Regions from separate parts of the Homo sapiens genome. Here all the other regions are reported to be linked to region 4. The links are microRNA targets in miRTarBase. Many come from high-throughput screens and were not tested one by one. Region 4 holds a microRNA gene; each other region holds the end of a gene's coding sequence. Distances are between the middles of the regions.
What was found. The annotated mature microRNA hsa-miR-3622b-5p reads AGGCAUGGGAGGUCAGGUGA and lies in region 4 at 968-987, opposite strand. An mRNA with a match to its seed (bases 2 to 7 or 8) in the 3' UTR can be bound and repressed. Matches are read on the target gene's strand: a 7mer-m8 pairs with bases 2 to 8, a 7mer-A1 pairs with bases 2 to 7 and ends in A, and an 8mer does both.

Region 1: miRTarBase lists EBAG9 as a target of hsa-miR-3622b-5p. Seed matches in the 3' UTR shown: 7mer-A1 at 522-528.
Region 2: miRTarBase lists PARVB as a target of hsa-miR-3622b-5p. The part of its 3' UTR that is shown has no 7-base or 8-base seed match.
Region 3: miRTarBase lists TAS2R5 as a target of hsa-miR-3622b-5p. The part of its 3' UTR that is shown has no 7-base or 8-base seed match.

What each region holds. Positions count from the first base shown.
Region 1 is chr8:109,564,057-109,567,181 of GRCh38, forward strand. It overlaps EBAG9 (estrogen receptor binding site associated antigen 9), which reads left to right. Exons shown (of 7, transcript NM_004215.5): 7 at 383-1,940. The coding sequence ends at 503. Among named protein-coding and RNA genes, the nearest start is that of EBAG9, 25 kb to the left of the region's middle.
Region 2 is chr22:44,168,090-44,171,214 of GRCh38, forward strand. PARVB (parvin beta) reads left to right here. Exons shown (of 13, transcript NM_013327.5): 13 at 513-3,125. The coding sequence ends at 589. Among named protein-coding and RNA genes, the nearest start is that of PARVG, 11 kb to the right of the region's middle. RefSeq lists enhancers at 1-117, 2,008-2,529.
Region 3 is chr7:141,790,692-141,793,816 of GRCh38, forward strand. It overlaps TAS2R5 (taste 2 receptor member 5), which reads left to right. Exons shown (of 1, transcript NM_018980.3): 1 at 1-676. The coding sequence ends at 570. Among named protein-coding and RNA genes, the nearest start is that of TAS2R5, 2.0 kb to the left of the region's middle.
Region 4 is chr8:27,700,759-27,703,883 of GRCh38, forward strand. It overlaps MIR3622B (microRNA 3622b), which reads right to left and starts at 1,009; the gene lies at 915-1,009. It overlaps MIR3622A (microRNA 3622a), which reads left to right and starts at 919; the gene lies at 919-1,001. It overlaps LOC124901920 (a long non-coding RNA gene), which reads left to right and starts at 212. Exons shown (of 2, transcript XR_007060869.1): 1 at 212-3,125. It also overlaps a transcript of SCARA3 not described here. RefSeq lists a silencer at 2,376-2,521.

The sequences.
Region 1 (3,125 bases), 82 Mb from region 4:
GGTATCCCCAGAAAAAGATGTGGTTCAATGGAAGTATTGTTTTACAAAATGGAGATAATCTAAATAAGAAGTGTCAGAAGATGTGAGTTCTTATCCCTGTACTTAATCCTATGACTTCGGGCAAGTCACTTAGCCTTTATGCCTCATTTTACTTATTTGTAAAATAGAGATAATATTTCTTCTATTTCACAAGTCACGTTCTAAGGACTAAGAGAAATCCTGTTTTTGAAAATATTTGGAATTTTCAAATTAGTGAGAAAATTTTAAGACTTTCAACATTTTATTTGGTGATAATAAAAAGGCACTGCTATTTCTTTCTAGAATTTATTTGCCATTTTACCTGTTTGGTATTTTCTAAAAGTAAAAGTATGTTTCTTTTCAGACAGCAGAAACTAGCAGACAGAGAAAAGAGAGCAGCCGAACAACAAAGGAAGAAAATGGAAAAGGAAGCACAACGGCTAATGAAGAAGGAACAAAACAAAATTGGTGTGAAACTTTCATAACACATGTTCAAATTTTATCATGCCAGTAGGAGAAATCTCAGCTCCACAACCCAAGCAACATTTGTATGGATTTAAGAGTATTTTAAGAAGACATACTGCTTGATTTTAATACATTGATCAGGCCATCCAGGACACCACGATTCTCCCAAAGTACCTTGAACTCTTAGTGATTGAGACTCAAAAAAACAAAAAAGACTTGAGACAATGTTTTCTTCAACATGCTCCAAATATAAGACATTTGTTTGCTGTACAGAAAGTATCACAAATGGAATATATCAGTACCTCTCAAGCTAGTGTTTCTAGCTAAATAAATGGGTGTATATAATTTTATGGTGGAAAAGAACTGTACTGTCTGTTATGATTTCCTTCAATGTGCATAATGATAAAATAAATAATTTTAATATTCTTTTGTTTCCATGGTTACCTGACCTAAATTAGATAAATTGTAGGGCTTTAGCTTTCTTATTTTTGTCAAAAGTTGGTGTTGACATACATTCCCTCTAATTTGAACTGGTATTGTTTACGTTTGATACAACATTAAGGAATTTGATGATTTTCATTTCATGAAAATGACATTAAATGCAATAATTTTACTTATCATAAACATTTTGTACATCATTATTTTCTTTTGGATTAGTGTTGTCATACATGTAATTTATATCACATGTATAAACATTGAAAATCAACTAAAATGACATTTGTTCTACATTATAACTTGTGAGTTTCAAGAACTAGTATTAGTAGTTTTTTCCTTTCATTATAGATTGTAAGATGTTGTGGTATCTTTGAGTGCCTTAGTTCTTCCTTCCTCCCAAAAGCCATTAATTTACAAATGCTTAAAGCCATCAGGTCAAATATTTCAAAGCCTTTAGATGATTTCTGTACTAGCTTTAGATGTCTGACGTTATGTAGGTTACCTGTGTTCTTGGCTAGGAAAACATTATTGATTCATTAAATCATAAAGGTGGGAATAATAATCTTTTATTTATGATGTTGATTGGCTCCAAAATAGTCTTAAGGAAATAAATACTGGGTCTGTAGGGGAAAAGTAGACTTCATAGTTTAAAATCCCATTAACCTTTTCACCGCAGTTGAAATGCATCCAGCCTGATTTTCCTATCATTTTGGAATTTTTAAGGATTTTTACTTTCTTAAGTTACTGCCTAGAATCAACATTCGGTGAGATTTTGAAATGTCATAGATACTGTACAGGCCAAACCTTACTAATTTATTTTACTTAAAGTGATATTTTATAGAAAAATCATAAGTTATACAATGAGAACCCTTTAAGCCCTTAGCCTAAGCTTTCAGACTAAATGTGATTATAGAATAAGATGAAAGTTAACTTTGGTACAGAGCTTTTTATAGCCCCAAATTATATTTCCAGTTATTATATTCATTAGAATTTCTGCTAATAAACTCCCAACTTAAATAGAATTGGGCTCAAAGTTTTAATAATGTATTCTCTTCCTTCTTTGTATTTATAGTTAGTTATTATGGGAATACAACATATCTTCTCTAAATTTGGAATTCATAAAGGATAACTTCCTTTAGCTCAATTACTTGTATTGCTTTTCCCTAGTAGCTGAAAAGTATTTAAGTTTGGTTTGGTCATGATTTTCATGTGTTTGAGGTTTTTGTTGTTGTTGTTTGGCTTTTTGGTTTTTGATTATTTAAAAATAAAGACATTAGCAATTATAGTTAGTATGATTAGGAAGAAATAGATTTTTCTTGTGGAAAGAATAGATAACAATTCTGGAATTTATTTTATCTCTATTGATGTGTAAACTAAATTCCTGTATTAACTTGGGTATATTTTGGTCCCAAAAGTAGTCACTGAGTTAAATGCATATGACAAACAATTCATGGTAGCATACTGTCTCTTTTAGCTACTAAATTTATGGTTTCTATTTTTTGTTTTCTTGATTTCAATAAAGAATTGTCAGTTTTAGATGCTTATTAGAAATAATAAGAAATACTGGTAGGCATAGATAGAATTAGTGAAGTTTTAACCATTAGCAAAATCGTGCATTTCATGTACTGAGATAACAAGTAATCAAAGACATGGGAAACTTACCTTGTGTTTTTTTTTGTTTTGTTTTGTTTTTTATGTAGTAATTTCATGGTTTCTAGCCATTTCCTCTTCTTAAGCTTTACCTAGGGATATTCTCTACTTGGCTCTTCTTTTAGTATAGCATGTTTAATTGAGTTGACATTTTAGAACTGAAAATTTGAAATTCTGCATCCGAATTTCTCAGTTTTGACATGCACTTGCCTCTGGGTGATTATTTCTAGGTTGTTTCTACATGAAGATTGGTGATTGGGCAGAAGGTACCTACAGAAACCAGCATCTGGATCGAGCTTCCAACACCACTCTACAAGCTACCACCATGGCGTAAACCTAACCATAGTCAGTGTTCCAAAAAGCCTGAATTTTGTTGAGAATGGTATGTTTACTAAAGGATGGTTTGAGCCAGACAGAGCTAACATACTCATCTTGTTTGATCCTATGAAGTTCAGATTTGGAATAACCAACGATGGTTTTCATACTCCTTAAACCCCTTGCTCAAAGGAAATCTTCAGGCATGTAAGCAAACATGACAGGGTTCCGAATGGATCCCT
Region 2 (3,125 bases), not on the chromosome of region 4:
TTACAGATGAAGGCACTGAGCCCCAAATCACGGAAGTCACTTAGAGGTCACAGAGCAAGTGAAATGAACAAGGTGTCTGATTCCCAGGAAGGTTCTTGTCCACATAAAGAAAGTGGCCCAAGACTTCCAGGGCCCCAGAGGGAGCTGTCGGGTCCATTAAGTGTTACTGGGGTTTTTGGTCCCGGTAAGTGTCATTAGCCATGTCCCCCAACCGGTTCTTAGACATGTCCTGATGCAGATCCAGGAGGGGCTGTGGGAGTGTCTCTGTTCTTGTCACCCCAGGTGCCTGTCCCCGCAGGGTGTCAGCCCGCGCCAGGAGCTCTCACAAAACCTGTGTGTCTGGGGAGGCACTGCCCAGAGCGTCCTGGACATGGTGGTGGCCAGTCTTTAAGGGGAAGCGCTGTGTGTGGATGCGGCAGCTGGTGTCATGCTGGAGACGTGGCTTCTGAGAGTACCTACCGCAATGACAGGAGGATGGCACGCCTCTGAAGTTTCTCTGTTTCCTTCTGCAGACGTGGTTAACTTGGACCTCAAATCCACCCTGAGGGTTCTTTACAACCTGTTCACCAAGTACAAGAACGTGGAGTGACGGGGGAGCTGTGGATGGTGGCAGGAGTGTCCCAGCAAGAAAGGCGGCATCCGTCTGTGCCCTGTGCCTTTCCAGGGAGCCAGGCGCCATGGGCTTCTGGTCCAAGCTGTGTTGACTGTCATCCCCACCCCACCCCTACCTCACGCCTGCCCCACCCCCTGCCTCTTTTGGTTGTTGTTCTTAATCTCCTCTCCATGTAGTTCCCAGTGGGCAAGAGCCTTTGAAAATGCAGGATTCTAAACACTCGTGCTTGCGTTTGAAGCCTCGCGTCACTCAGTCGCGTGGGATGATGAGTCCGTTGTTGTCTGCCTTGGCCGAAAGATGAAAAAAAGCCTGAACCCCAACCCCCAGCTGGTTGAGAGCACCCTGCATTCTGCCTCATGGTGCAGTTAGCGATCACAGGCCTTCAGAAGTACAACATCAGCTCAGCAGGAACGCCGGCTCCCCGAGGACCCAGGCTTGACGATTCACCGGGGATCTCCTGGGCTGGGCTCTCCTTGGAAGTGAGGCCTTTTATTAAAAATAAAAGGGTTTTGCAGTTTGAAAAACTTTAAAGTCCCAGAAGCTTAGATGTGACATGGGTGTCCTCCACCCACATTCCTATCACTTCTTGGTCACTCGTTTTAATGTAGGTTTTGCACAAACATCCAAGACTCAGGATGGCCCAGCTCCCACAGTCCTTGAAAGGAGCTGTCTGCTGGGGACGTTTCTTAATTTCTTGCTGTGGTTGAGGGGCTGGGTCTGGAGATGGCTCTAATTGTGCTGCTTGAGACAGCTTGGGTCACAGCTTTCCCCTTCAGAGGCCCTTTTTGGGAATGAATGCATCTTTGGAAACTTTAAAATGAGGGGGGTGCATTGGTTCACTGGCACTGTGTAGTAAAGTGCCACAGGGGAGTGGCTCAGACATCAGAGAATTACATCCTCAGGCCTTTCGCCTTGGCTTGTAGATGCCGGCTTCTCCCCGTGTCTTCACATGGTCTCCCCTCTGTGTGTCTGTGTCCTCACCGCCTCTTTTATTTTATTTTTTATTTTTGTTTTTATTTTTTGAGACAGAGTCTCGCTCTGTCACCAGGCTGGAGTGCAGTGGTGTGATCTCAGCTCACTGCAACCTCTGCCTCCCAGGTTCAAGCGATTCTCCTGCCTCAGCCTCCCAAGTAGCTGGCATTACAGGCAGGTGCCACCACACCTGGCTAATTTTTGTATTTTTAGTAGAGACGGGGTTTCACCATGTTGGCCAGGATGGTCTTGATCTCCTGACCTCATGATCTGCCTGCCTCAGCCTCCCAAAGTGTTGGGATTACAGGCGTGAGCCACTGTGCCCAGCCTATTTTTTTTTTTTTTTTTGAGACAAGTTCTCACTGTGTCACCCAGGAGTAAAGTGGTGCCATCTCAGCTCACTGCAGCCTTGATCTCCCAGGCTCAATTGATCCTCCCACCTCAGCCTCCCAAGTAGCGGGGACCACAAGTGCACACCACTAGGCCCATCTAATTTTTGTATTTTTTGTAGAGATGGGGTTTCACCATGTTGCCCAGGCTGTTCTCAAACCCCTGGGCTTGAGCGACCCACCCACCTCAGCCTCCCAAAGTGCTGGGATTATAGGCATGAGCGGACATGCCCAGCCTGCACCCCTCTTTTTAGAAGGGCTGCGGTCCTATTGGATTAGGGCCCACTTATATGACCTCATTTAATCTTGATTACCTCCATAAAGACCCTGTCTCCAAATACCATCACATCAGAGGTGCTGGGGTTAGGACTTCAGCATGTGGATTTGTGGGGGGCATAATTTGCCTTGTACCGGGAGGATATGAAGTGTTCATGTTACTCTCCCTGTAGCCCTGAGAGCATCTCCCTTAGAGTATCCTATAAAAGGAGTCGCTGCTCACTCAGTTATGGGTTGTTCACCCCCTCGCTCACCCCAGCTCTGCAGAGAACTGGGGATCCCATCGGCCATGCTTTCTGGGCTGGCCTCTGGTCGCAGTCAGTCCCTCGCTGTGGCGCCCCCCCCTCCCCCAGCTCCTTCCCAGGGTGATGACCCGCTGACCCCCTGGGGTGCACCTGCTGCAAAGCAGCCCCCTTCCTTGGCATCTCTCAGCATTCTCCGTAGTGAGCCTGGCCTTTCTGATCTTGTTAGCTTTTTGTCTTCCTGCCGCAGATCAGAGCTTTGGAGTAAGTTTTGATATGAAATCGAATGCCAACACCGAAGTTTTAGAAAACAGTTTAATATTCCCTCTCAGTTCCGGCTGTTGCTAGGCTGGGGATGGGTTCAGAATAGCCATTTTGATGGAGGTGATTTCCCAGCAGGGGAAAGAAATAATTAAAACAGCATTACGGTGTCTCTTGCGGGATGCAGTGACATTCAAAAGCCACACTGACAAAAAGCCTGGGGCTGGAACGTTCTGTGCTGCCTGCATGGCATGTACAGGACCGCGGCCCCCTGGAGCTGGTGGAGTGGCCCAGCCTTGCCCTGCTCACAGGTGGACCTGGAGAGGGCACTGTGCCTTCCCAGGGATTGGGATTTGAAAAGAACAGAGCTTG
Region 3 (3,125 bases), not on the chromosome of region 4:
GATCGCCCGGCCTACTTGTGGCTGAAGCAGAGGGCCTATAACCTGAGTCTCTGGTGCCTTCTGGGCTACTTTATAATCAATTTGTTACTTACAGTCCAAATTGGCTTAACATTCTATCATCCTCCCCAAGGAAACAGCAGCATTCGGTATCCCTTTGAAAGCTGGCAGTACCTGTATGCATTTCAGCTCAATTCAGGAAGTTATTTGCCTTTAGTGGTGTTTCTTGTTTCCTCTGGGATGCTGATTGTCTCTTTGTATACACACCACAAGAAGATGAAGGTCCATTCAGCTGGTAGGAGGGATGTCCGGGCCAAGGCTCACATCACTGCGCTGAAGTCCTTGGGCTGCTTCCTCTTACTTCACCTGGTTTATATCATGGCCAGCCCCTTCTCCATCACCTCCAAGACTTATCCTCCTGATCTCACCAGTGTCTTCATCTGGGAGACACTCATGGCAGCCTATCCTTCTCTTCATTCTCTCATATTGATCATGGGGATTCCTAGGGTGAAGCAGACTTGTCAGAAGATCCTGTGGAAGACAGTGTGTGCTCGGAGATGCTGGGGCCCATGATCTGGGAAGAAAAGTGTGGTCAGGACACTCTTGGGACGCTCTTTTGATAGCTCTCTATAAGGGAGCTGCTTTCCATGTCTTTTAAGATTTTCCTTCTTTTACACCAATGTAATGAATGAGCAACAGAAAATACGGATCAAAACCCAATACTATGTCTCTTTTGGCAATGCAAAGTATATTTTTTTAATGTACCACAGAAATCAAGGCTAGGGCTTCATGTTTGGTAAAAGAGGTATTATATTCTCTCTACATATAGCAAATAATTCATATATAAATCGTGTTTTTCCTATTATAAAAAGCAGAGATTAGGAACAATTCTGTCTACATATAGCAAAAATTCATATATAAATTGTGTTTTTCCTAGTATAGAAAACAGAGATTAGGAACAATTATAGTGATCATTAATTTTTATGAAATTTTACCTATACATTAATGTTAGTCATTTTAGATATGCTTTTTAAAAAGTATCAAATAATTTCCCCATTTCTCTGCTGTAATGTATCTAATTATCTAACTGAAAAACAAAACAAAACATCTTTATATTTCTGGAAGTTTCTTTGAGCCCTAGCCTTGGCTTTCAGAATAAAAATCAGGCTCACGCCTGTAATCCCAGCGCTTTGGGAGGCTGAGGCGGGCGGATCACGAGGTCAAGAGATCAAGACCAAATTAGCCGGGCGCGGTGGCGGGCGCCTGTAGTCCCAGCTACTCGGGAGGCTGAGGCAGGAGAATGGCGTGAACCCGGGAAGCGGAGCTTGCAGTGAGCCGAGATTGCGCCACTGCAGTCCGCAGTCCGGCCTGGGCGACAGAGCGGGACTCCGTCTCAAAAAAAAAAAAAAAAAGAGATCAAGACCATCCTGGCTAACATGATTAAACCCCATCTCTACTAAAAATACAAAAAATTAGCCTGGTGTGTTGGCGGGCACCTGTAGTCCCAGCTACTCGGGAGGCTGAGGCGGGAGAATGGCATGAACCCAGGAGGTGGAGATGGCAGTGAGCCGAGACCATGCCACTGCACTCCAGCCTGGGCAACAGAGCGAGATGCCGTCTCAAAAAAAAAAAAAAAAGCAGAATAAAAGTCAGTTGGATGCCATGATCTGTATTAAGCTCCAAGGCCCAGGAACTGAAGTGGGGCAATATGAGAATGAGGGGCACTTGATTCTGCTTAAAAAAAATAGACTGCCTTTGAAGAGGTCACGCTGTCTGCTCTTCAGTCATTTAGCCATTTTGCCTGTCTACTGTGGCCTCACCACAGCCTACAGTCAGAGTTCTAGTGTGCCAGGTCTTTGAGTTGGAGGGAGATCATTTAGAATGCCAGATCCATGGCAGTAGGAACTGTGTCTGTTTTTATTTTCTCCCACGTCTCTGTGACTAGAACACTGCCTATTGCATAATAAACGCTTAATAAATATTTTGTAAATGACTGAATAGCTGTGCTAACTGGTTTTACAATGCCTCCTTTGTATTGTAGGTAGAGAAACTGATGCCCAGAGAGGGGCAGTGGCCTGCCCTGGGTTTCATAGAGAGCCTGTGGCAGTGCTGGGACTAGAGCTGTTTCTTGACTCCTGGTGCAGGGCTCTTTCCTTTACAACATGCTACTTTCCTAATGTCCTTCCCTCCTTGGAACCCCATGCCTCTTTCTACAGACCCTTCTACACAACTTATTCTCTTCCTTCTTTCTAGCCTTCTTTGTTTCAGTTCCAGGGGGATCTGAAATCCAAAGGACAACACTTGGCATTCTTAAATATTTTTTTTTCACTTCCTATGGATCACACTAATCTACTTTCATTAATCTATTCTCTCAAACATATCTTTTTCTTACCTGAATCTGAGAATTGAGGTACATGCTAGGCACATGTGGATATTAGTCATCACACAGGGGGAGATTGGTTCCACTGTCACTGTGAGTTGTGTGAGGTCAAGTACCATATTTTATGTCCTGGGAAGGATCATATTCATTCTTTTTAAATAGAAAGGTGCTTCTGCTTGGTTATATTTTTGTTAGTAGGATGAATTTTCATTATACCATTTCTATTTTTTTTACAGATGTCCTTTGTGACCAATTGTTGTAATAGTGACAATAGTATTTAACATTTGTATTGGGCTTTACATTTTACCAGACAATCTCATATATAGTCCATTATCTCATTTGATTTTAATAGCAACTCTATGCAGTAACCAATTTTATCCCCAATTCACAGGTGACAAAACTCAGGCTGGAGTGATGGTTTGCCCAGGATCATGAACTTGTAAATAATGCAGATGGAGCAGACCCAAATTTTTTGACTCCGAGTCTTGTGCTCTTTCCAGTAAATCCTAAGTATCTCATTGTTCATACTTGTAAGACTTCAAACTAGGATTAGCCTGTGGAACTTCCCTCAAGTTTATGAGTATTTTTACACACATGCAATAAGCAACTAATCTTTCAAATTTGGTATTGATGGGATGCCTGGGTGCTAAGATCCAAAATCACAACAGATCAAAGTTTATGATCTGCTTTTCTTAGTGACAAGGTATGGAATCAACCTAAGTGTCCATCAACACATGAACAGATAAGG
Region 4 (3,125 bases):
GCTAAAATTTCAAAAACCAACAATACAAAATGTTGTGAGGATGTGGAGCAACGAGAACTCTCATGCATTAATGGTGAAACTGTGAAGTGGTACAACCCTTTTGGAAAAGTTAGGTGATTTCCTATAAATCTGAACACATACTTAACCTATGATCCAGCAATTTCACTTCTGGGTTTTTACCCAAGAGAAATGAAAATGTTTTTCTATACCAAAATTTGTACATACTATTCACAACAGCATTGTCCAGAATAGCAAAAAACTGGAAACAAGTCAAATGTTCATCAATAGGCAAATGCATGGAAAAATTATGATAAATCCATACTCACCAGTAAAAAAAAAACAAAAAAACTAGTGATATGCAAACCAACTTGGATAAATCTCAAAAGCACATTGAGTAGAGGAAGTCACTCAAAAGAGTACAGACTGTATTATTCCATTGAGATGATGTTCTAGAAAAACTAAAATGAATCTATAGTTACAGAAATCAGGTAAGTGGTTACCTGGGATGGGATGGTTAGGATGGGATTAACTACAAAAGAGAAATAGGGAAGTTTCTGGGGTGCTATAAATATTTTGATTGATTTAACAGTTACTGAGTGTATATATTTGTTAAAATTCATCAAAGTCTACATTGAAGTGTATGCATTGTATTATATGTAAATTATGCCTCAGTACAGTAGATTTTTTTAAAATGTTCTCGTAGCTCCCCATTGAACACAGGTGTCATCATGGCAAGACATTTCCTAGCTGAGAGATGCTTTTTCATTCTTTCATTCAAAAAGTAGCTTTTTCTTTCCTTCCTTCCTTCCTCTCTTTCTTTCTCTTTCTCTCTTTCTTTCTTTTCTTTCTTTCTCTTTTTTTTAGTGGCAAGGTCTTGTTTTGTCACCCAGGCTGGAGTGCAGTGGTGTGATCATAGCCAATAGAGGGTGCACAGGCACGGGAGCTCAGGTGAGGCAGGGAGCTGAGCTCACCTGACCTCCCATGCCTGTGCACCCTCTATTATATCACTCGTATGTCTACCATTGTTTGCAGATCGTGAGCTGCTTGATGACTGATGCTAGGGTGACCAACCAACCAAGTATGCCCCAAACCAAAGGGTTTCCTGGGCTTCCTGAGCTAAGGGATGTTCAGTGCTAAAACTGGGAGGCCCAGGCAAACGGGGAAAATGGGTCACCTTATCTGAGACCTTGTGCTACTCATCTCTGAAAGCATTCCCAGGCTTAGCCCCCTATCAGGTGGGTGATGTATGCTCAGTAAATGTTTCCTGAAAGGCTAGAATATGTGTGAGTAGGACACTTGAAATTCTCCTTTGGTTTCCCATGCAAACTGAGTCCTACAGTGAGAAAGCCAAGCGTAGTGGCAGATCCTGCCCCAGACACCAGGCTCGCTTGGGTCCTGCCTAGGGCGCCAGCCTCTCTCCCATGTCATTGGTGTTCTGGAAAGCAGATAAACAACTGACTTCAAGTCCTATTTAAGTTTTATGGGGTAGCCAAGGTCTTCCAGGGCTCCATCTCCAGGAAGCCCCCTCCCTGCAGCCTGGCTGGCTTTTCTTCTTCTTCTGGTGAAGTCATCCGACCCCAAGTGGCCCACAGTTTCCTTTCTCTCCACACCTCCCAAACCCGCTGCCCAGTCCTGGCACTGCCTGGGGTTACTGCTGACCTTTCAGTGCTGTTTGCTCAGAAAGTGCCTTTATGTCAACACAAACAGCCTTCAGGTTTGCCAGGGCCTGGCTCCTTTTCTCCCTGGGGTCCAGGGTAGAAAAACAATAACCAGTGGGAAGGAGAGCGAGCCATAGGGGAGTGACGCGTCCCTGGACCTTGGGTCTCTGTCCTCTCAGCCCTGTCCCTCAGGGCCTCCTTTGTCAGAACTCAGTTCTGTGGGGAGAGGGTACTGGGGAGGCAGCGGCTTTAAACAATGCCACAGTGTCTGGCAGGGAGCTGCGTGCTTGACCTGATTAGGCTCAGTGAGCCCGGGGGAGGGAGGGAGTGAAGGCAGGCTTGGGAAAGTGTTTTCCATCCCCACCCAACAGACTTTGCTTCCTTGTATCTCTGCCAAGACCTCTTTTTGGGGAGGAAAGGCCGAATCGCCTCATTTCTACAGGGGCACCTTGGCCTCGCTCCTCTAAACCTGGGTAAGCTCTTTGACCTGCCTGTCCCCCTCCCTCTTGTCTTTCCTTCCCACCAACCAGCTCCCAAACAGAAAGTGTTTTTCACACTCGCAGCTCTCCCTCCTCAGGCCCTGCCAGGCCCGAAGCTGGGCCCAGAGGCCAGCTGGCACCCACATGAAAGGCCTTCCTGTCGAGAACTGGCATGGAACCCAGGGCCTCAAGGCTGCCCACACCACAGCCCTGGCCCAGGGTCCAGAGCACAGGGCCACGGAAACTTGGCCACAAGGCTCTGGGGAGAAAAACAGCCTGAGCCGCACAGGAGAGGAGCCTCCCATCCCCGCAGCCTGGCTGGGCACATCAAGGGAGAAAGCGCAGTGCCCAGAATCCTTTGAACATGAAGCCGCAGCACCTGCACCTGGCAGAGGACCCGGGAACCAGGGATTCGTGCTGGGGGCAGCACTTGGGGTTTGTTAGTGCAGGTGGAGAGAAAACAGGAGAGTAGCAATTTCCAACCCATCAGCAGAAAAAAGTGAAAGCTGAGAAGTCAGGGTGAGGCTGGAGGGGACAGGATGGGGTGGCTGGGTGGGCCCAGAATTGAGATCTGATTTGCAAAATGGTGGCAAAAGGCAACAGACTGCGGCTCCCTTGAGAGAAAAACCTGGTCTCCCAACCGGCAATGGGTGTGGTTATCAAACGCACAGCCATGCCTGTTCCCAGGATGCAGGTGCAGTCTGGATAAACTGAGACTAGGGTTGGGGGGGATCTGTTCAAGGTTGCACAGCACCTTCAAGATGGGGCTTGAACTACAAACCCAGGACTCCGGACCTGGAAAGAATCTCCTAGGAGGTTCTGGAGGGTTCATTCTTGGACAGAAATCTGGGAGAACCTACAGCAAAATGGCAACAATGTGATTGTGGGTAACTTAAAGTTTGTGGTTTTGTGTGTGGTTTTTTGTTTTTTGCTTACCTGTGCTTTCTACTTTTTTTTTTTTTTTTTTTTTTTTTTTTTTACAGTGAGA